Regions from separate parts of the Homo sapiens genome. Here regions 1, 2, 3 and 5 are each linked to region 4. The links come from fine-mapping of genetic effects on gene expression. A gene starts in region 4. Each other region holds a variant in brackets. All regions are shown on one strand. Distances are between the middles of the regions.

Region 1 (4,113 bases), 21 kb before region 4:
TGTGATCTCGGCTCACTGCAACCTCTGCCTCCCAGGTTCAAGCAATTCTCCTGCTCAGCCTCCCATGTAGCTGGGACTATAGGCGTGTACCACCACACCCAGCTAATTTTTTTGTATTTTTAGTAGAGACAGGGTTTCACCATGTTACCCAGGGTGGTCTTGAAATCCTGAGCTCAGGCAATCCGCCTGCCTCAGCCTCTCGAAGTGCTGGGATTACAGGTGTGAGCACCACGCCCGGCCCCAGCGTGGCATTTCTTAGACACATCTGCAATGCTTTGTGACTAACGACACATTCTTCCCAACGGGGCTGTAGCTGGGGTACAGGAAGGAGGAAGGCAGGGACAAAGGAGTGAAGGCATAGCTTGCACCTGCCCTGGCCTCTCATCCCAAAGAACAGACCCACAAAGCAATCCTGAGTTTAGGAAGCCTTGTGAACCAAAGAGCAAAACTGTCAGAGGCAGAACTAGAACCGAGCAGAGGGGAGCACTTCAAGCTCATTCTGTGCAAGGAGCTGAGGCAGGGCTGGACAGGCAGCTGCGCTGGGGCTTGCGCTGGGTGCCCTTACCCTCAGCACAGCACTGGAGGCTCACCAGGGCCCCCATGGACACAGCTCAGCTCCCCAGCACGGCCCCAGGCTGACACTGGACCTAAGTAAGGCTGCACAAGCTGCATGCGGCTACTGAGCATTTTAAATGTGGCTGGTGTGAATTGAGAGGTGCTAGAAGTGTAAAATACACACCAGATATTGAAGACTAAGTGTGAAAAAGAGAATGTAAAACATCTCACATTTTTCAAAAATTGCATGTTGAAATAACAGTTTGGATATATTGGGCGAGATACATTATTAAAATTAATTTCAACTGTTTCTTTTTACTTTTTTAGCATGGCTATTAGGAAATTTAAAATTAGATGCAGAACTGGCATTATATTTCTGCTGGGTAGCACTTGAATGCTAGGGAGGAACACTGGAGGGAAGGGCTGGGCAGATACCCCAGTTGGGCCACACCGAGCACATCACAGCATCACAGCCCACAGAATTGCAGATGTGTGGAGATCTCCATTGACTGCCAGGTCACACCTGTGCTCCAGGTGATGGGCAGCTCCCACCAGGAACCCAGGCCTCTCTCCCACCTCTCCTTGGTCTAGGAGCTTACCAGCAGATGTCCTCAGGGTCAGCAGCAAAGGTGACTGTCCACTTGGAGGTATAGAGCTCCCTGCTATGGGAGGACGGCTGGGGCTCACCTTTGCACTGAAGGCTCTGACACTTGCAGGCATTGAAATCTTTCAGGATGCTGCAAGGAAATGTAGCAACAGCCAGGCCCAGGCTACTCAGGTTACCAAGCACACATGTGGCAAGTGGGGACTGAGTAGGAGTGGGAGGCAGTGGCATAGGACCTTTGCTTTGTTGTGATTAGTGTATTATGAGTAACGCTATGTAAGAGGTGCCACGCTAGCACAGTGTGTGGAGAATTTTGTTTAATCCTCGCAACCACCAGCAACAAAGGGAGTACGATTCCCATTTTACAGATAAGGAAACTGAGGGCAACACACTGCTCTTCCATAGGGCCATCCCCCTCCACCCTGCCTGTTAAGCTGGAGCTCTGATCAGTGCTACTGCCAGGCCAGTGGCTCAACTTTTCATTCTGTCACTTTTTCCCCAGGCCCAAGTGTAGCAATAGACCACGTTACACATTGCCTGTTCCCAAGCTTCCCTCCTCAGGGCTCCCACCTCGACCCTCACCATCTCAACAGGTCACAGCTTTTCCTCCTTTAACCTCCCGTAAGGAGCCCAGCAGCCCCTCTACTCCTGCCTCAGATGCCTTCCCCTTTCCTCCTGCCCCAGTGTCTGCAAGGAGGCAGGAAGTCCTGTGTGAGTCCATTCCTAGTGTCACAATGCCTGGGGCAGTGGCTGGACACCTTTCCACACCCCTCTCCCGACCCACCCTGTGCTGCTCCTAAGGCGAGATGACACTGAGACCACAGGCATGAGAGCCTAGAGTCCCATGCCAAGGGCCACTGTGAAAAGCCACTCCCCAGGGTCAAGCTCCCCACTGCAGTGAGCGCCCCAGCGTGCCCCAGGGGTCTTCC[CCA/C]CAGCTTTGCATTTGTGGGAAGGTGGGGAGCCACAGACAGAAGGATCTGTGGCCCAGAGCAGATGTCTGAAAGGAGGGTGCCTCCATCTCCCCTGGGGCAAGGCTGGCACATGAAGCCAACAGGATGGGTCCAGGGCAGCAGGGAAGAGCCCAGCAGTGGGGCCAGGCCACATCAGCTCGAGGGGGTCAGCCAGAATCACCCACTCCGTGGCTGCTGCCCACACCCCCACCGCCTGTTACACAAACATGGGCTGGGCTGGCTGAAAGTGAGTGTGGGTAGCTGAGGGAGGAGAAGGAAACACCACAGATAAATCCCAGGGATGGTGGGTCAGCAGTACCATCTCCACTCGAGAGGGACAGTGAGTTATCTGGAGGGGAACAGGGAGTCAGCCAAGAAGGGGTCTGGATGTGCCTACACTCACTAGGTGGCCATGGACTTCTCCTGGAAGGTGACGAAGGCCATTCCCAGGGGCTGGTCCTGGACGTGGCGTTCTTCCTCTGTGATCCTCTCCAGCAGCCTGTCCTTCATCCGTGTGTAGTAAGAGATGGCGTCTTCCTGCCACAAGACACATCCCATTGGGATGACGTGGCCCCATGCTGGTATCTGGGGCACCCCGATGCCAATGCCTCTGCTCCCAGCCGGGGGGTGGGACCCTTACCCACTCACAGCCCAGCACTTCACAGCAGCAAAACTGGCCACAGGGCTTGGGGTTGATGAGGGTCCGCTGGCCTGTCTTCACCTGCAGGTTTGTGTAATAGGTCAGGCTCTTCTCAGTCTTCTTTCTGTAGGGGTGGGAGCGGGGGCACAAACCTCAGATTTAGAATCCTGTGGCAGGGACCCCCATACCCACAGTTCAACCATCGAACGCCAGGGGAGAAGGAGGGGTCCAGGGCCTCCCGCCTCCCTTCCTAGCTGGGAGATGCGAGGCCAGCAAGGAAGGAGGGGGCATCTTGCAAGGCCCGCCCACCACTCACTTCTCCTTGCACAGGTAGATCAGTTTGGCCACGTTGTAGCACAGCTGCACATCAACCACCTCACACGTGGGATACGCGTCCCTGTGGCCAGGGAGAGAAGGAGGCAAAAGACACCGTTGGAAAAGAAAACACCCCAAGCAGGAGACGTGCCCACGGATCCAAGGGAAAGGATGGCAGAGTGATCTCGCTGCTGGTTTCTGTGCCAGCGGAGACCTCTCTTCTCTTTGTCTTTTATCCTCCAAAAGGGGGAAATTTTGAAATTTAATACAAAGAGGGCTTTTGTTTTGTTTTGTTTTGTTTAGAGACAGGGTCTCACTCTGTCACCCAGGCTGCTGTACAGTGGCACAATCATGGCTCACTGTAGCCTCAACCTTCTGGGCTCAATCAATCCTCCCACCTCAGCCTCCTGAGTAGCTGGGGCTACAGGCACATGCCACCAGGCTGATTTTTATTTTTTGTAGAGACGGGGTCTCGCTATGTTGCCCAGGCTGATTTCGAACTTCTGGCCTCAAGCACTCCTCCTGTCTCACCCTCCCAAAGTGCTGGGATTGTAGGCGTGAGTCACTGCACCCCGCTAGCCTTTTTTAGTAGTATGAAGCTAACTGCCTGGAACTGACAAGTTTATACCCACTTGGCTTGGAATCAGCTGGCACTTCTCCTGGGGAAAAATGAACACATCACTATCCCCTCTAAAGACCCAAAGGAACAGATTTATTGTTTGTGCTAGGTCAGTATCTACCTTGAGCCATCACTGAAATCCTATTCAGGTAGCCTTTTTTAAGGTCACAGACCTTTCAGAGGGTCTAATGAAAGCAAAGGACCCTCAGACCAGAAAATATCTACACACATATTAACAACCAGCAAGGCCAGGTGCGGTGGCTCATGCCTGTAATCCCAGCACTTCGGGAGGCTGAGCCGGGTGGATCACTTGAGGTCAGGAGTTTGCGACCAGCCTGGCCAATGTGGTGAAACGCTGTCTCTACTAAAAATACAAAAATTAGCCAGGTGTGGTGGCACACACCTGTAATCCAGCTACTTGGGAGGCTGG
Region 2 (4,113 bases), 25 kb after region 4:
GGCTAGCTTTTAAGGGTTGGTTTCCCTAGACCCAGGGTGGAGGGCTCTGGCCACCCAGGAATTCCCAGAGCATCTTCTGACAGGAAGGCACCTAGTGCATTGTTCATGGACCTTCCTGTGAGGGGGCAGCACCAGTGGCCTGTCCTCCTCAGCCCAGTGACAGCAGGTCCTTGCTGAAACCAGCCCATGCTTCCAGCTCCAGGGAGCTCCCAGCGAGTCCAGATGTTGGGAGGTTGGGGAGGAGCACAGCTTGCAGTGTCAGACCAGGGAGACCCCTGGGGTGGAGTCTGGAGACCTGGATTTGGCAGGGCTTTGTCACCGACTCATAACCAAGACATTCTGCACCTTGGGTCTGAGGAACAGAGATCCTACAATTTCAAAAACAGTAAATGTCTCCAACCTTTCAGAGCAAGAAAGCTGCACAGTGTAACTGAGAAGGGAGGTGGATCAAGCTATTTGGGGGAAGCTAGGAAGAGGGTCCTTCCTCGCCCTGAGTCAAGGCCCATCCTTCTGGTCCCAGGGCCAGACCTTGCACTTGCCTGGACCCATGGCATAGATCAGGCAGGGTGGAGGGGGCACCATTCATTGAGGCAGGGAAGGGAGGACAGGCAGGTGCGGGAGTGGGGAGTGGAAAGAAGATTGGACAGGGACAGTCTGAAGAACTGATGGGAAGTCCAGGGGCCACATCCAGGACTCTGCAGAAGGTCAGATGTGGGGTCTTTGGCAGGAGGTAAGAGAGCAGGGAGAGTAGATGGCCAGGCACAGCTACAGAGGTACAAGAGCAGAGATGATACTGAGGGGAGCACAGAGGAAAAACTCTGGGAAATAACTAGTGGCTAGAGGTTTGGGGAGAGAAGGGGAAAGCCAGAGGGGACAGAAAAGAACTGAGAGAGGCAGGAAGAGACCCTCCCCACCCCACCCCTGGACAGCCACAGACTGGCGCTAGAATCAGGGACAGGGAGGTAAGGAGGATATTTTTATGCCGTTACAGAAAAAGATGAAAGCTCAGAAATGGAAGAGAGGTCGGAAAATTTGCAAAGCCACGCATGTGGGGTGAGGACTGCTCAGAGATCAGAGAGGCTTGGTGCTGGAAGGGACCTGAGAGGAAGCTTTGGTCCAACCGCTCATTTTAAAGAGAGAGAAACTGGGGCCTGCGGAGGTCACCCCACTGTAGATGGTGAGCCAGCCTGGAGTCAAGCATCTATAGGTTAGAGGATCTAACCATATCTCCAAGGTCCAGGCCTCATGGTGCCCCTGGAGCCCCTTGTTCTCCTTTGGGAGAACAAAAATCAAATTAAAAAGCTGATTATTTTCTGGCTCAGCCTGAGAGGCTCTGCTACCTTGGTTCTGTAATTAAAAATGAAATAATACATAAAGCGAAGGAGAGAGCTGGTCCCCAGGGCTGCCGTGGGACCAGCCCTCATTTTCCCACATAAGGCTTCAGCTTCCTGCCCTGGGTCTCCAAAAGCAGACGGTGATATGGGGGACAGGTTGAAGGCTGGCCACATCAACTTTCAGGCCAGGAAAGCCCCACCTCAGATCAAAGCCAAGGCTGCTGTGCCCCTGGGAGGGAGCATTATGTGAGCCTGTTTGTGGGTCAGCATTGACAGGGCAGGCCTGGGGAGGCCTGTGTGACTTGAGCATGAGCTGAGGGAGGCTGCAAGGGGATTGGACATGGCACAGGGCAGTGAGCTGTGTGGCCTTGGGC[A/G]GCCCATGACCCTCGCTGGACAACGGGGAATTTGACCTGCACCACGTTCGTGTCCCTCCAGGGTCTCTGGATCTAGACTAGGGCTGTTTCCGCTAATTAGGAATCATCTCGGGTGTGTGTTTTATTTCCACTTTCCATGTTTACTGTTGGTGTTTCCATAAGAAGTTTCCAAGATGTGTTAGTTTGGTGTCAAATAAAACAGAAGCATCCTATGGTGTGTGTGTGTGCGTGTGTGTGTGTGCACATGCGTGTGGGAGCATGTGTGGGTGTGTCCATGTGTAAGTGTGAGGCTGTGACTGTGGCAGTGTGTATGATCCCTTCCCGGACCACGAGCTGACTGAGGGCAGCACCGAGGCCAAGGCTGGCTCTGTGGCTGCCCCATGCCCACGGAGTAGGCTCCTGAGGGTCCTGTGACATGGTTTTGGATTTTGTTAATGAAAGATGCTGGTCCCTGGGAAGGTTTGATCCTCCTGCTTGGTACCTGGAAGCCCCCAGAATGTGTCCAACAACAGAGTTCAGCCTTTTCCTATCTTACAGCCCAAGGTCCTTTGGCCACCAGATGGGAGCCGCCACAGGCCGATTCCAGACAGGCGGCAAGGAGAAGGAAAAGAACAAAGCTGGCCCCTTCAGAGGTGGGCAAGATGAGGAGTGCTCACAGTGGTTCACAGTGGGGGTTGAACTGGGGCTCTGGGTCCTGTGGCCAGGGGTTCAGGGGTGGTCGTGACCGCCTTTGTTCCAGGTGTGGCCTGGGCCTGAAGCAGACTCTGTGTGAGGAGTGGGAGGGCTCCCTGAGGAAATGGCTCCCCTGCAGCCTGGATTTCCAGCTGCTCAGCCCAGCAGGGAAGGGGTCAGTGCGGCCTGAGCCCTGCACACCACAGCTCTGGGGAGCGGCCTGTATTCTCCATGATGAAGACACCACAGCCCTGGCTGGGGATGACCAGCGGGGCCTCCACAGCCACACTGACCTTCGTCTGAAGTAGGTCTGCCTGACGGGTGCATTTGCCATGCAGCCTCATTCTTCTCCTGAGCATCCTCCTATCCAGGGGTCTGGGTTCAGGAACGTGGCCCTCCTCACCCTGCCCCTCTCACCCAGGCCAGCTGGAGGCTCCACTCCACCCTTGTGCTGAAATCCTCCCCCTGCTTCCCCAGGCCCTCTGTCTCCTTCTTCTCCCTCATCCCTTGACTCTTCATGATCTCCAGGCTGCTTGACATGGGCTGAATTGTGGACCCCCAAAATTCATATGCTTAAACTCTAACCCTCAGTACCTCTGAATGTGTCTATTTGGACATAGGGCCTTTAAAGAGAAAATTAAGTTAGATGAGGTCACTAGGATGGACTCTAATCCAGTATGACTGGTGTCCCTGGTCTTGAACTTCTAGCCTCCAGAACTGTGAGAAAATAAATTTCTTTTTCTTTTATTTTTTGTAGAGATGGGGTCTTGCTGTATTGCCCTGGCTGGTCTCAAACTCCTGTCCTCAAACAATCCTCCCACCTTGGCCTCCCTCCCAAAGCACTGGGATTACAGGCATAAGCCACCATACCTGGCTTTCTTTGGTAGAGACAGGGGTCTCACCATGTTGCCCAGGCTTGTCTAGAACTCCTGGCCTCAAACAATTCTCCTACCTCAGCCTCCTGAGTAGCTGGGATTATAGGCATGAGCCACCACCGTGCCAAGGTTGACAAACACATTTCTGTTGCTTAAGCGACCCAGGCCTGGTCATTACAGTTTTGCTGTAGCAGCCCAGGAATGTGATGTGCCACTCTGCCTACACTGATGTGGACTCAGCTCCAAGTCCACAGTCACAGTGCCAGGTTGCAAACCCACATCTGTGCCTCCAGATTCTTCTGAGGCCCTGCCTCTTTCCCTACGGTCTGAAAATGGGGGGCCCACCTCCCCTTAAAGAGGAACTCCCGATGGCAATGGGGTTCAGCGCAGGCTCCAGCCATGCTGCTCATCTCATCTCGGCCCTGGGCAACCCCAATGAGCCTCATTTTTCTCATTTGTGAAAACGGGCGTCAGATAGAAACACGCACTGGATAGGGTTGTTTGTGGGGACTGGGGAAGGTTGGGGAAGTCCAGCTCCAGCTTTGACCTGTATCTGGCACTCCATGAACGCAGCTTTTATTTTTATTATTCCTCTCAAACCTATCCCCTTCCAGGATTTTCCAGGTCAGTTAATGGTGTCACCAAGCAGAAGCCTTGGCCTGGCTTCCACACCTGCTTCTCTCTCACCTGCCCTCATCTCATGGCTCAACAATCCTCATTAAATACCTGCTAAACAATAGCCATTGTGCTCTGCACTGAGCAAACAACAGGAACCCTGTAGACGGTGGAGGTTTTAGCTTATCTGTGCATTAAACAAATTGAATTTTAAACAAGCAATTGATATTAGGGGGATACACT
Region 3 (4,113 bases), 29 kb before region 4:
GGGTTCATGCCATTCTTCTGCCTCAGCCTCTCAAGTAGCTGGGACTACGGGCGCCTGACACCATGCCCGGCTAATTTTTTATATTTTTAGTAGAGATAGGGTTTCACCATGTTAACCAGGATGGTCTCGATCTCCTGACCTCGTGATCCGCCCACCTTTGCCTCCCAAAGTGCTGGGATTACAGGCGAGAGCCACCGCACCCGGCAGTGTATGTCTTTCATCCGTCGCTGGGTCAGGGTCTGTGGGACAGACCCTGCACCAAGGGAGTCACAGTGTCTGTGATCCTGTCCCCACAGAACACTAACATTCCAGAATCATCTTGGAAAGAGGCTGTTTCACAGTTGGATGCCTGGCCTCAATTCCTCCCCAGCCCTTCCCATGCTGAGCCCCTGTATGTCAGTGCTCCCACACCCCTGGCCTTCTCCCACCCGGCTGATCCCTGCCCTCATCACAGTCAACAGAGAATGAGGCCCAAGGGTCTTACCCCAGGGGTGGCACAGGAGCACACAGGGGACCAACAGAAAGTGGGTGCTGCCTTTTCTATTATGCCAGGTTCTTTTGTTTTTTTATTTTTTATTTTTTTTGAGATGGAGTCTCGCTCATTGGTCAGGCTGGAGTGCACTGGTGCAATCTTGGCTCACTGCAACCTCTGCCTCCTGAGTTCAAGTGATTCTCCTACCTCAGCCTCCCGAGTAGCTGGGATTACAGGCGCCTGCCACCATGCCCAGTTAATTTTTGTATTTTTAGTAGGGACAGGGTTTCATCATATTGGCCAGGTTGTTCTTGAACTTTTGACCTCAGGTGATGCACTGCCTAGGCCTCCCAAAGTGCTGGGATTACAGGCATAAGCCATCGTGCCCAGCCCCAGGTTCTTTTTTAAAAAATAAATTTTGTTTTGAAAGTGTAAATACTGTAGATTTTTAAAACTACACAAGAAAGTATACAGGGAAAACTAAAACAACTTTTCCCCCTAAAACTCAGCTATCACTGCCAGCAGTCTCTTGGGTTTTTTGTTTCCTTCTAGAGCCTTTCATTAATCTGCCAGTTGCAGATGTTTTATTTCAGTGGCCAGGACCTTGGTCTTTAAACAGTCCTGAGTTCAAAGGCTGGTTCTCCTGCTTACTAACAACATACGAAGTTATTTTGTGTGAAGGGGGAATAGAAACAGGAACTGCCTTGTAGGATGAGGTGAGAAATGTGGTAATCCACGTGGAGGCAGGCATCTGCCAGAGTGAAAGCAGCACGAGAGCTTTGATTGTGACTCTGGCACTGTCTTACTTGCTGCTAAAGAAATCAACCATGAACGACATAGTCAGTGGGCAGAGAACCTCAGACCAGAAATACTAAGAGAGGTCCTAGCTGAGGGCCAGTGGGAGGAATTCATTTAAAAATGAATGAGGCCGGGTGCTGTGGCTCATGCCTATAATCCCAGCACTTTGGGAGGCTGAGGCGGGTGGATCACCTGAGGTCAGGAGTTCAAGACCAGGCTGGCCAACATGGTGAAACCCCATCTCTACTAAAAATACAAAAAGTTAGGCAGGCATGGTGGCGGGCACCTGTAATCCCAGCTACTCAGGAGGCTGAGATGGGAGGATGGCTTGAGCCCAGGAGGTGGGGGTTGCAGT[A/G]AGCCAAGATCATGCCACTCCAGCCTGGGCATCAGCATGAGACCCTGTCTCAAAACAAAAAAAGAAAGAAATGAGTGAAATCTGGTGTCACGTGAGTCTTTAGCAGCTTGTGGCTCTTGTGGCTGTGGTTTTGGGAACTCCATTGTGCCCTGGTGATAGCTGTCCCCGAGAGGTTTGGTGCAATCAGCCGTCCATGTACCCATGTACCCTGGGACAGGCTCCAGGGCCACTCACCAAATGGCGCGATGATGGGACAAGTGATGCTGTAGGCCACGATGACAGTGAAGACACACAGCATCCATGCATACATGGCTCCAAACTCGTACTGGAAGGCCTGGTTCTGGGAGGAGGAGGTGGTGAGGAGCTCATGGACTTGTTCCACCTCAAACACCCTTTTGTGCTCTCTAAGTGGTGATGGGAGAGCAGGGTGGAGGAGGACTTTGGAAATAGGAGATGCGTGGCTCCCCGCCTCCCAAGGTCCTTCCCATCCCTCCCAGCCTGCCCTGCTTCACTCAGTGCACCCAGCCCTCCCGAGGCATGGTGATGCGTGTTTGCTAGTGCTCCCTTCGTTCCACCCAACAGGCATGTGAGCCCCTGGAGGGAAGAGGTGGTCAGGGAAGAGGTGTAGAGTGACTCCAGCCCTTCTAGCAGGGGATCCTGGGCCAGCTTAGTTCATGCCTCTGTGAAATCGGGATACTAGCAGTGCCCAGCTCATAAGGGGGCTGAGAATGAAATGAAGGAATGCAGCACTTCTCCCACTTTCCTCGCACAGTGCCCACCATGGCAGAGGAGAATAAAAGAGAAAGCCACACCCTCCAGTTCAGGGAATCCTGGAATAAATGCCACAAGCCGAAAATGCCTTTGACATCTGGGGTTTGGCTAAGAATTTATGCAAATGGGTGCCTACAGAAAAAGAGTCTGTTGGTTTGAGTTGTATGTATGTATGTGTGCGATCAAACCGTTTCAAATGCCAAAGTCCCAAGCTCTCTCCTCCAGCCTGTGAGCTAGAGAGGAGGCTGGAGGAGGCCACGCCTGCCTGGACCCGGGTTTGAGAAGCACTTAGCCCAGTGCCTGCACTAGTGGGTAGTCAGGTAAATGCTACCCACTAGTGGGGGTAGTGGGGGTGAGAGGCCCTCGGGTCAGTGAAGGGGGACATGGGAGGGAGTCAGAGGCACAGCCCTGGGCCCAGGGGATGGCACCTGCTTGACATTCCTGCGGTCAGCAGCCGTCTTGGCCATGATCATGCGGAAGGTATAGAGGATGAGACCTGGCAGCCGCAGCAGCTCCATGCCATTGCCGATGAAGGCCGAGGCGATGACATAGTTCACAAAGAAGGCACCCTGGTCAGGCAGGAAGACGCACCTGGGGAAACCAGGGCCCAGGTCTGTGAGCTGAGAGCCGCTCTTGGAGGGAGAGGAGGGGCCCCTAGGCTGGGCAGGAGCAGAAAGCCCCTGGGAGGGCTGTATACTCTTCCGTTCATTCAGCACATATTTGGGAAACACATCTGTGTGCCAAGCACCTTTCTAGGCACTGAGAATAGAACAAAGCCCCTGCGCCACTCTCTTGAAGTTCACATTCTAGCTGGGGGCACAAACAAGCAGACAAACAAATATTCCATCTGCTGGGGACGGTGAGCACTAGAGGAAAACAAAGCAGGGAGGGTTCCTATGTCATACAGGGGTTGGAGGAGCCTTTCTAACGAGGTGATATTCGTGCAGAAATGTGAAGAGGTGAAGGAGCAAGTCATCCCCAAACCTGGGAAGACAGGATTCCAGGGAAAGGGAACAACATACAAGACACCTGAGGATGTCCTCGTCTGCTGCACATCCAGGGGCTGGACAGCAGTGGGCGAGGGGAGGCAGAAGACAAGGCTGAAAGGGGCTGGGGGCCAGCCCAGGACAAGGGATCTGTTCCAATGGGGTCAGGGAGACTACACAGATGGCCACTGTGTCATCCCCATGTGGGATGAGGGCGGTTGTGATGGAGGTGGTGAGATATGAAGGGATTCTGGATCTACTTTAGAGAGAGTTGTCAGGATTTTCTGGTAGGCTGGGTATGGCATGGGAGGGATAGAAAGGAAACAAGGTGAACTTTGAGGTTTTTTGCCAAAACAAGTAGAAAAACAATATGGAATGGGGAAAGTTGTAGAGTAGCAGATTTGAGGGTAAAAGTCGAGAGTTTGGTTTTGGGCAGGTAACATCCGTGGTACCCAGTAAAACTCCAGCTAGAGTTTGAGGTGGGCAGTTGGGTTACCAGCCTGGAGGTGCAGGCTAGAGGCATAAATGTGGATGTTGTCCGCATAAGTTAATTCAGGAGCAGTATCATGGCATGGAAGCCGTGGGTTCAGCTGAAGTCACCTAGAGAGGCAGTGTGGACCCAGAACTGGGGGCTGAGCCTTCAGGCAGCCAAAATCTAGAGTTGGGGAGATGGGAGAGAACCCACCAAGGAGGGTGACAAGAGGATGCTGCGAGATGAGAGACCCAAGGCC
Region 4 (4,113 bases):
CCCAGGTTAGGGTAGAGCTCTGGGGACCCACAATCTCTCTCAGACCTTTCAGCTCAGTCCCAGCCTGTCCCTGCCCATTAGACACATAAAGTCCAGATCCCCCTGAAACAGCTCCGTCCCTCTGGCTCTCCATGGGACAGCTCCTCTGCATTTTCACAAACAGGCACGCTCTGAGCAGGCAGCTGGGAACACAGACACCATGGGACAGTGCTGCCAGGCTGAGGAGAAGGCAGGGGGAGGGGAGCACCCAGCTGGCAGCTGTATAGAGGAGGCCAAACCAGCAGCTAGGCACTGTGGTTGAAGTGGCACTGCCTGGCTGAGAACCCCTGGCAATATTCAGTCATCCTAGATGTATGTGAATGCCTAGCACTTACCTGTGCCTTCCAGAAATTCTCCATTCATCCCCTTATTCCTACTCAATATGCCGAGGGTAGGAAAGCCAAGAATTACTGCTGAGGCCCAAGAGCCAGAGTGGGCAGCAGGTGACTTCACGCTCCCAACCCAAAGTTCAACCCATGTGCAGGCAAGCGTCTGATTGTGGCCAGTGGGAGAGGGCTAAATCCAACAGCTGGTCTAAATTTGCCAAAGTAAACTACCTATGCTAATCCACTGCCAGTCTCCATTGGCAGCAAGGACTGGCCTGGTGGTCAACTTGACAAGCTCTAGAAATACCAGCAGAATGTTGCAGGAAGTATATGGATATTGTTCGTTCTTGCAAGAAGGCCCGTACAAATTCAGGGTAATTTTATCATCACCAAATCTTTCAATCCTGTGATGACAATAGCGAAACTACAAGCAGCTCCAGGCCTTCTGCCTCAGGAGCTAACTCTGGTCTTTCAGATGCAGAATAAGGTTGCAAAGTAAAGTACAAACTTCTCCTTATGGCAACACCAAACAGGACCCAGTAACCTGGACAACTGTTTACCTCCTACCCTGGAGCACAAAGGAAATGACACAGCCCCTGGCTGAAACCAGAGGCAGTGTGGCTCAGGGATTATGTGAGCAGGCTCTGGAGTTAGGGTCTCAGCACCACGCAGTTCAGACAAGCAGCCTAACCACTCTGTGCCTTGGCTTCCTTCGCCAGGAAATGCGAGTGATGACTTTCTCTCACGGAGCTGTTGGGAGGCACAGATCCCAAACAACACCTGTAAAGCACTTAGCCCAGGACCCGGCCCTAGCAAGCAATTAGAAGCTGTCTGCCTTTATTTTAAGTCGCCCCTCCAGCTAATGGGAAACACAAGGGCAGGATCCCACCTGACGTCTTCTCTGTTAGAGCCCAACGAACAGCTAGGAGAGACCTTTGCCCCCACACTAAACAAAGGAGAGGGGCGTGTGAAGGGAAAAGGAGCCTCGGCTTCCGTTCATATCCCCCTTGAAGGCACAGCAGACTTGAGGATGACCTGAGAGGTGTCAAGGGAGGGTCAGTGGGTCCGCCACGCTGTCCACCCCTGCCCTTGAAGAGGACACCACCTGCCTGGGGCTGAATGACCAAGGCCCCTCCAGGGCCTCAGGTAGCTAGTCTTATCAGGTGCTGGAACCTTTGCGGATTTGGTTTCTTAGCAGAGCTCGCCTCACCCTTTCCGCCCCCGCCCTTCCCCCCAGTCCCCGAGTCCCCAGCCTCCCTCCTCAGGACTCCGCCAAGGCTGCAGGAAGTGGTCACCCAGGAACAGCCCGAGGGGTGGCCTCTGCCTTCCTGGCGTCAGGAGAGTCGGACGCTTGGCCCTTTCCCAGCCCGGCCTCGTATAGGGTCCGAGGAGCCCATAGCTGCACTCCTAGTTAGGTGGGAGGTCGGACTCCGCCGACAAATCCCAAAGAGAGGGGTGGGGAAGAAGGAGATACCAGCCCTGAAAGCGAAAAGCCGGAGAGGAAAGTCCTGAAAAGCCGCCAGGAATTCCCAAGGAGCGCAGGGCTGGAATGGAGGCGCTGCCCGGACCCTCTCCTCCCACCCAATCCCGCGTCGTCACCCCCTGCTTGGGGTCGGGGGCTCTGGGGTCTGCGTAGGCTGGGAGCCGTTCCGGAACCGGACACCTGGCGCGCACGTCCCGGGAAAGGCGGAGGGTGCATTGCCCCTCCTCACGCCCCCTGTCCCCTGTACCTGCGGCGGCGGCGTGTCTGGCGGGACCCAGCAGCGCGGGGCGTGTTCCGACCACTTAAAAGTTACAAAGTGAAACTCCGGCGCCTCCTGCACATGCGCAGAGCTGCGGCCACCCCTTTCCCAATTTGGAGTCTTGGCCCGCGGCGGCGCAAGCCTGTACGCAGCTGACTGCGCCTCCCGCGGTGGCCCTCGGCGGTCCTCTGCCCCGGCCTGGCCTCCTGGTCGCCGCTCAGCCCCGCAGCTCCTCCCGGAGGTCTGCAAGCCCCGGACCGGCCAGCTCACGTCCAGGCTCCAAGAAGGGATCCGCCGGGGCGCACCCTCTTCCGTCCCCCGGCACGAGCCCAGTCTCTGGACGCCTCCGGGAGAACTGGGCCAAGCACAGGGTGGTCGCGGCGCAGGGAGAGCATCTGCAAACGTTGGTCCCTGTAGTGCTTTGAATTTCCCCGAAGAGCTCTTAGACCCGCCCCGGGAGAGTGGGGTTGCGGGGGTGGTAGCATGGGGAGCTCAGCAGGATTCAGCCCGCACCTCGGCTCCGGGTAGTCGGGAACCGCGCGGAGCGCCCTGCAAGAGGCCACGGCTCCCCCGCCGCTGTAGAAGGCCGGACCGTGAAAGCCCGGAGGGTCTCCGTTCGGGCAAAAATGTGGGGGCGGGTCGCAGCATTTCCAACGCCCCCTGGGGCTAGTCCATTACTGCTCGAGCCAGGGCCGCCAAGGGCACCTACTCCAGCCCAGGTCCGAGAGCGCGGCATGCCTCCCGGCCGGGAGCCAAATGTTTCCAGGGAGCCGGTGGCCTCCACAACCGGACCGCAAGCTCGCGAGGGCAGGGCCGGCCCGCCGCGCCAGGGACTGCTGGGCGCTGCGCGGGAAGCGAGGCTGGGTTCGGGGAGGACCGCGCGCCCTGGGAATCAAGGAGCAAACCAACCCGTCCGCAGGCCCCTGTTTCCCTATCTGTGAAATGAGTGGTTGGACCAAAGCTTCCTCTCAGGTCCCTTCCAGCACCCCTCTCTGAGCTCTGAGCAGTCCTCACCCCACATGCATGCCTTTGCAGGTTCTCCGACCTCCCTTCCATTTCTGAGCTTTCATCTTTTTCTGTAACGGCATAAAAATATCCTCCTTATGGCCGGGCGCGGTGGCTCATGCCTGTAATACCAGCACTTTGGGAGGCCGAGGTGGGCGGATCACCTTAGGTCTGGAGTTCGAGACCAGCCTGACCCGCATGGAGAAACCCCGTCTCTACTAAAAATACAAAATTAGCCGGGTGTGGTGGCACATGCCTGTAATCCCAGCTACTAGGGAGTCTGAGGCAGGAGAATCGCTTGAACCTGGGAGGCGGAGGTTGCGGTGAGCTGAGATTTCACCATTGAACTCCAGCCTGGGCAACAAGAGCGAAACTCTGTCTCAAAAAAAAAAAAAAAAAAAAAAAAATTCCTCCTTACCTCCCTGTCCCTGATTCTAGCGCCAGTCTGTGGCTGTCCAGGAGTGGGGTGGGGAGGGTCTCTTCCTGCCTCTCTCAGTTCTTTTCTGTCCCATCTGTCTTTCCCCTTCTCTCCCCAAAGCTCTAGCCACTAGTTATTTTCCAGGGTTTTTCCTCTATGCCCCCCGCCAGTATCATCTCTGCCCTTGTCCCTCCATAGCTGCGCCTGGCCATCCCCCCTCCCTGCTCTCTTACCTCCACATCTGACGGTCTGCAGAGTCCTGGGTGTGGCCCCTGGACTCCCCGTTGGCTCCTTAGACTGTCCCTGTCCAATCTTTCTTCCACTCCCCACTCCCGCACCTGCCTGTCCTCCTTCCTTCCTCAATGAATGGTGCCCCCACCTGTCTGGTCTGTGCCATGGGTCCAGGCAAGTGCAAGGTTCCGGTCTTGGTAATTAGAATGCTGGAGCCACTGACAAAGATTTCAGAGAGAGAAAGGATTTCTAAATTTGTTCTTGAGTAGGTTAAGGTTATTTCAAAATCAAGAGAAGGCCTTGATGGATCGATATGTGAGTTGAGATAGCCACAGCCTTTGTTATGTCAGTT
Region 5 (4,113 bases), 37 kb before region 4:
CTTGTCCAGAGGCTGAAGCAGGTACACTGGGGCCAGATCAAAAGCAAACTCATTCCTGCAGGCAGGTCCTCACCTCCTCCAAGAGCCTCAGCAGGGCCTTCGTCTGGGATCTGTTTCCCCTGCCCTACATTCAGCAGGACACAGGGGTTGATGGAGCTTCTGCAAGACCACCTTGGCAGGGGGTCTGGCCTGCTCCTTGCACACGGATACCTGGAGCAAGATGTGAGGCCCCACCAGACTATCCCACTAGGCCACTCCTGCAGCTCTGGCCCCGGGTTACAGGGAGCACCAAATCCCTGAGCAGGAGGTAGACAGGATCAGATCTGTGTTCTAGAAAGAACAGGAATACACTAGGGTGGAAATGGTGGTCGTGGTCGTTTTCAAGCTGCGGGCAGAGCTGAAAGGGAGATGGAAGCACTTGGCCAACTTGCAGAAATCCAGTTCACAGAGGTGATGTGTATACTGGAACTAGTTTTCATTGACCAGTTTTCATTTTGCCACCAAAATCACATTGAAAAGGCTGTTCCCTTTATCTCTGTCCCTGCTCCCTGCTGCTGTTGCTAGAGATTCAGGGTTTGAGTGAGGAAGGTAGGGTTGGGAGGGCGTGCTCTGGGGAAAGTGGAAGGTGGGGTGGGGGCTGTGGAGTATGCATCCTGGACCCAAGCTGGCTAGGTTTGGATTCTCCACTTAATAAGTAAAATGGAGATAATAGTACCTATGTCCCATAGGCTGTTGAGAGGAAAACATGAATTAAAAGAAGGTAAGGAGCTTAGAACATGCTGCCTGGTATGTGGTCACCACAGTAGCTGGTGCCCTGAGCAGTTTCACGGTGCAGGGGTTGAGGGGAGGGAGGAGAGGTCAGTGGCAGGAGAGAGGGGACAGGTGTGTAGAGGCAAGGTGGGTGGGGGGAGGACCTTGGGGTGATAAGAGACACTTCAACTAAATCCATGCGCTCCAGTCTAGTGCCCTGGGCGCAGCCTGCCTGTGACACGAGGATACCACACACGTTGCATGAGGTCTGAGGAGGGAAGCCGCATGGGCAGGGCCTGGCATTTGTAGGACTTTCTGGCTGCCCTTTGTCACACAACTGCATGTGGCACTGAGAGTGGGGCTTTGTGTTCTGCGTTCCCAGGAAGTTCTCCCTGGACGACCTGCTGACCAACGTCATGCTCTACTGGACAACAGGCACCATCATCTCCTCCCAGCGCTTCTACAAGGAGAACCTGGGACAGGGCTGGATGACCCAGAAGCATGAGCGGTGAGCCTGGCTGAGCCGAGAACAGGGGCCTCTGAGGCTGGAGGCAGGGGGACGGCCAGTCTTGGGCTCCACGAAGGGCACTTGGTGGTGGGATAAGTATAGCCTTGCCTGCAGGTGCCCCAGGGGCCCTTGGATGGGAACACTAAAGGTCGAGGTGTTTGGAGAAAGCCCTCATGGAGGGACCAGGTGCCTGGCTCCCGGGCGGCCCTCAGTACCGCTCCCCAGTCTAGGATGCTGGTCTGGAGTGGCACTGATGGTTCTGGGATTTCCAAGTCTCACATGGAAACCCTCAAAGGTGGGGATTTAGAGGCTGTCCCATGCCCCTGCCTGGGTGGCCCTCCCAGAAAAGAGAAGGCCCTCAGTGAGGGGAGAGCGGTTGAGACCCTGGATTTGTCCTTTTCTTTATGGCTCCTTGTGGGTGGGCCAGCTGATCTCACCCCCAGGCGCTTTAACCCCCTGCTGTGCAGGACGGAGGGGCGCAGGGCCACAGCCTCACCCCTCCGTCGGCTCTTTCACTTCCAGGATGAAGGTCTATGTGCCCACTGGCTTCTCTGCCTTCCCTTTTGAGCTATTGCACACGCCTGAAAAGTGGGTGAGGTTCAAGTACCCAAAGCTCATCTCCTATTCCTACATGGTTCGTGGGGGCCACTTTGCGGCCTTTGAGGAGCCGGAGCTGCTCGCCCAGGACATCCGCAAGTTCCTGTCGGTGCTGGAGCGGCAATGACCCACCCCTCTCCCCCCGCCTGCCACCTCCCCCCACAAGTGCCCTCCAGGCTTTTCTTGGGGAAGATACCCCTTTTCTGAGGAATGAGTTTGCCTCCGTCCCCTGCCCATGCTGGGAGCCCACGCTCACCCCCTCACCCCTCCAAGCTCACTCCCCAACCCCCAACTCCGTGTGGTAAGCAACATGGCTTTGATGATAAACGACTTTACTCTAAAAGCGGCTGGAACTCAGTGACATGAGCGTGCGCTGACCCCACATGGGGCCCCCTGTGCAAGCAGAGCTGGCCGGCCCCTCCTTGCTGGCAGAGGCACGGGAGGCCTGCTGGGGATGAGGCCACTGGCCAGGGCTATGCTGCACCAGACCAATGGCACCGCCCCCACCCCTCCCAGCGCAGGGGCAGCTTGGAGCAGAGGCAGCACTGGCCACC[A/G]CTGCGGGGGCAAGTCAGCGTCAAGAGAGTCCCTGAGTGAGAAGGCCCAGATAAGCCCAGGCCCCCCAGGCCAGCGGACAGGCACAGGCAGGGCCTACAGAGGTGCCAAGGCCCCAGGCCAGTTGTGCTAGGAGCCTGGACCTGCTCTTCCACACCCCCATCCCGCCCCTACTGCACAGGCTTGTGCCTTGGTGCCCCCTGGAGGCAGCAGGGAGGAGGCTTCTCAGGCAGAAGTCTTAAGTTGCATCCCATTCCCCAGAATCCCCAGGAGGGAGAAGAGGGATGGGCTGCCCCTCCTTCCTGCCAGAGCCACAGCTCAAGGGCAGTGGGATGGCCCTGCACCCAGCCCAGGTACCCCTTCCTCTGTGCCGACCATGCTGTCCTTTGGCTCCGAGGAGGCCCTGAGCACTGCCCACCCCCACACCTTGGAGGGAGCAGACGGAGGGGGTGAGTACTGCACAGAGCCTGCCTGGAGGTGCAGACTCATGCACTCAGCCCTGAAGAGGTGAGAGAGGCTGGATCTTAACTGTGGTCCAATGGGCATATTATGAGTGGTCCTTGTCCCTGCCTGCTATGGGGTAACCCTGACCCAGCTAGCGTCCCTGACAACATGATACAAAAACACAGAACTCTAGCGGGATACAGAGATGTGTGCACAGCTGGCAGGAGCACTGGCCACCTCCCAACCTGTTCCCCATAGCTTACTCCTGGATGTAGCCTGGAGGGACTGCTGGGCTGGGGAGGGACTGGCCATGGAGCAGGGAGCTGGATGCCAGCGGGACCTCAGACCTGGACTGCAGCATCTCTTTGGTTATCGGTTGTGTGTGTGCTCAGAAGGGAGGAGGCCTTCCCCTTGTTACATCTCTCTCTCCATATATTCTCCCGGACTCATCAGTTTGGGGGGCGAAAAGTCCACCACATGGTCTTGGCGACAAACCACTGGGGATGTCACCCCAGCTGCAGAGCTGGAAGCTTGTGCCGGAGGGGAAACTGGGTGAGCAAGGGAGGGGCGAGGCCTGCCTGTGCTCTCCTCACCACTGCTGGGACCAGAAAAGATGGGCACCTGATAGCTCAGCTGGGCAGTCCCAACGCATTCCCACTCAGCCAAGGGCCTGAGCCCCAGGCCATTCTGGTTGTGTCTTTTCAGAGCAGTGAGACCTAAAACAGATGGGAAGAAGTCATGAACTTGGGAGTCAGGCCGCTTCACCTGTCTTCTCACCCCACAGGCTCCCCTGAGCCTGGCCCAGCCAGCAGCTCACCCAGCCTCAGGCCTCCTGGGGGGCAGCAGCCACACTGCCCGTGGCGCTCTGCGCCAAGCACTGTCCAGGGATAGTCCCGCTGATGTTGTGGATGGCACCATAGGTCTGCTGCTGCTGCTGCTGCGGAGACAGTGCTGTCCTCTCCGAGGCCAAGCCGTTCAGAATCCGAGGCACGTAGGGCTGTCAGCAAATGGATTTGTGCTTGGCCTGGACAGGCATGAGCTTCCACACTGCATCCCTCCCCTCCTGCCCTTCTCCCAACAGGACACAGACAGTGGCCATAAAGGACATATGAAGAAACACCGACATCCATTTAGGACATTAAGACCGAAAATATGACACCTGCAGAATTTCCTAGCAGCCAGGGCAAAAGAGAAAGCACAGTTATACAGTTCTCATGATCACAGAAGGAAGCACAAGAGAGCAGTTCTCAGAGGAAACTAAA

What was found.
Region 1: its variant is fine-mapped to the expression of TMEM63A in lung (TOPMed, PIP 0.90).
Region 2: its variant is fine-mapped to the expression of TMEM63A in whole blood (TOPMed, PIP above 0.99).
Region 3: its variant is fine-mapped to the expression of TMEM63A in whole blood (TOPMed, PIP above 0.99).
Region 5: its variant is fine-mapped to the expression of TMEM63A in monocytes after LPS (Fairfax 2014, PIP 0.95). The same link has a PIP of 0.9 or more in monocytes and monocytes after interferon gamma.

Annotation. Positions count from the first base shown.
Region 1 is chr1:225,859,706-225,863,818 of GRCh38, forward strand. It overlaps TMEM63A (transmembrane protein 63A), which reads right to left. Exons shown (of 25, transcript NM_014698.3): 11 at 3,066-3,146; 12 at 2,750-2,873; 13 at 2,513-2,646; 14 at 1,155-1,292. Among named protein-coding and RNA genes, the nearest start is that of TMEM63A, 21 kb to the right of the region's middle. The variant CCA/C (reference allele first, on the strand shown) is at 2,089.
Region 2 is chr1:225,904,989-225,909,101 of GRCh38, forward strand. No RefSeq gene overlaps it. Among named protein-coding and RNA genes, the nearest start is that of MIR6741, 15 kb to the right of the region's middle. RefSeq lists an enhancer at 1,448-2,221. The variant A/G (reference allele first, on the strand shown) is at 1,709.
Region 3 is chr1:225,850,805-225,854,917 of GRCh38, forward strand. It overlaps TMEM63A (transmembrane protein 63A), which reads right to left. Exons shown (of 25, transcript NM_014698.3): 19 at 2,825-2,987; 20 at 1,860-1,965. Among named protein-coding and RNA genes, the nearest start is that of TMEM63A, 30 kb to the right of the region's middle. RefSeq lists a silencer at 1,217-1,266 and an enhancer at 1,357-1,406. The variant A/G (reference allele first, on the strand shown) is at 1,626.
Region 4 is chr1:225,880,209-225,884,321 of GRCh38, forward strand. It overlaps TMEM63A (transmembrane protein 63A), which reads right to left and starts at 2,172. Exons shown (of 25, transcript NM_014698.3): 1 at 2,096-2,172. RefSeq lists enhancers at 1-728, 2,931-2,980, 3,041-3,090 and silencers at 1,581-1,700, 2,261-2,420.
Region 5 is chr1:225,843,366-225,847,478 of GRCh38, forward strand. It overlaps EPHX1 (epoxide hydrolase 1), which reads left to right. Exons shown (of 9, transcript NM_001136018.4): 8 at 1,133-1,258; 9 at 1,781-2,198. The coding sequence ends at 1,982. It overlaps TMEM63A (transmembrane protein 63A), which reads right to left. Exons shown (of 25, transcript NM_014698.3): 24 at 3,669-3,848; 25 at 2,171-3,567. The coding sequence ends at 3,675. Among named protein-coding and RNA genes, the nearest start is that of EPHX1, 35 kb to the left of the region's middle. RefSeq lists an enhancer at 2,541-3,351. The variant A/G (reference allele first, on the strand shown) is at 2,410.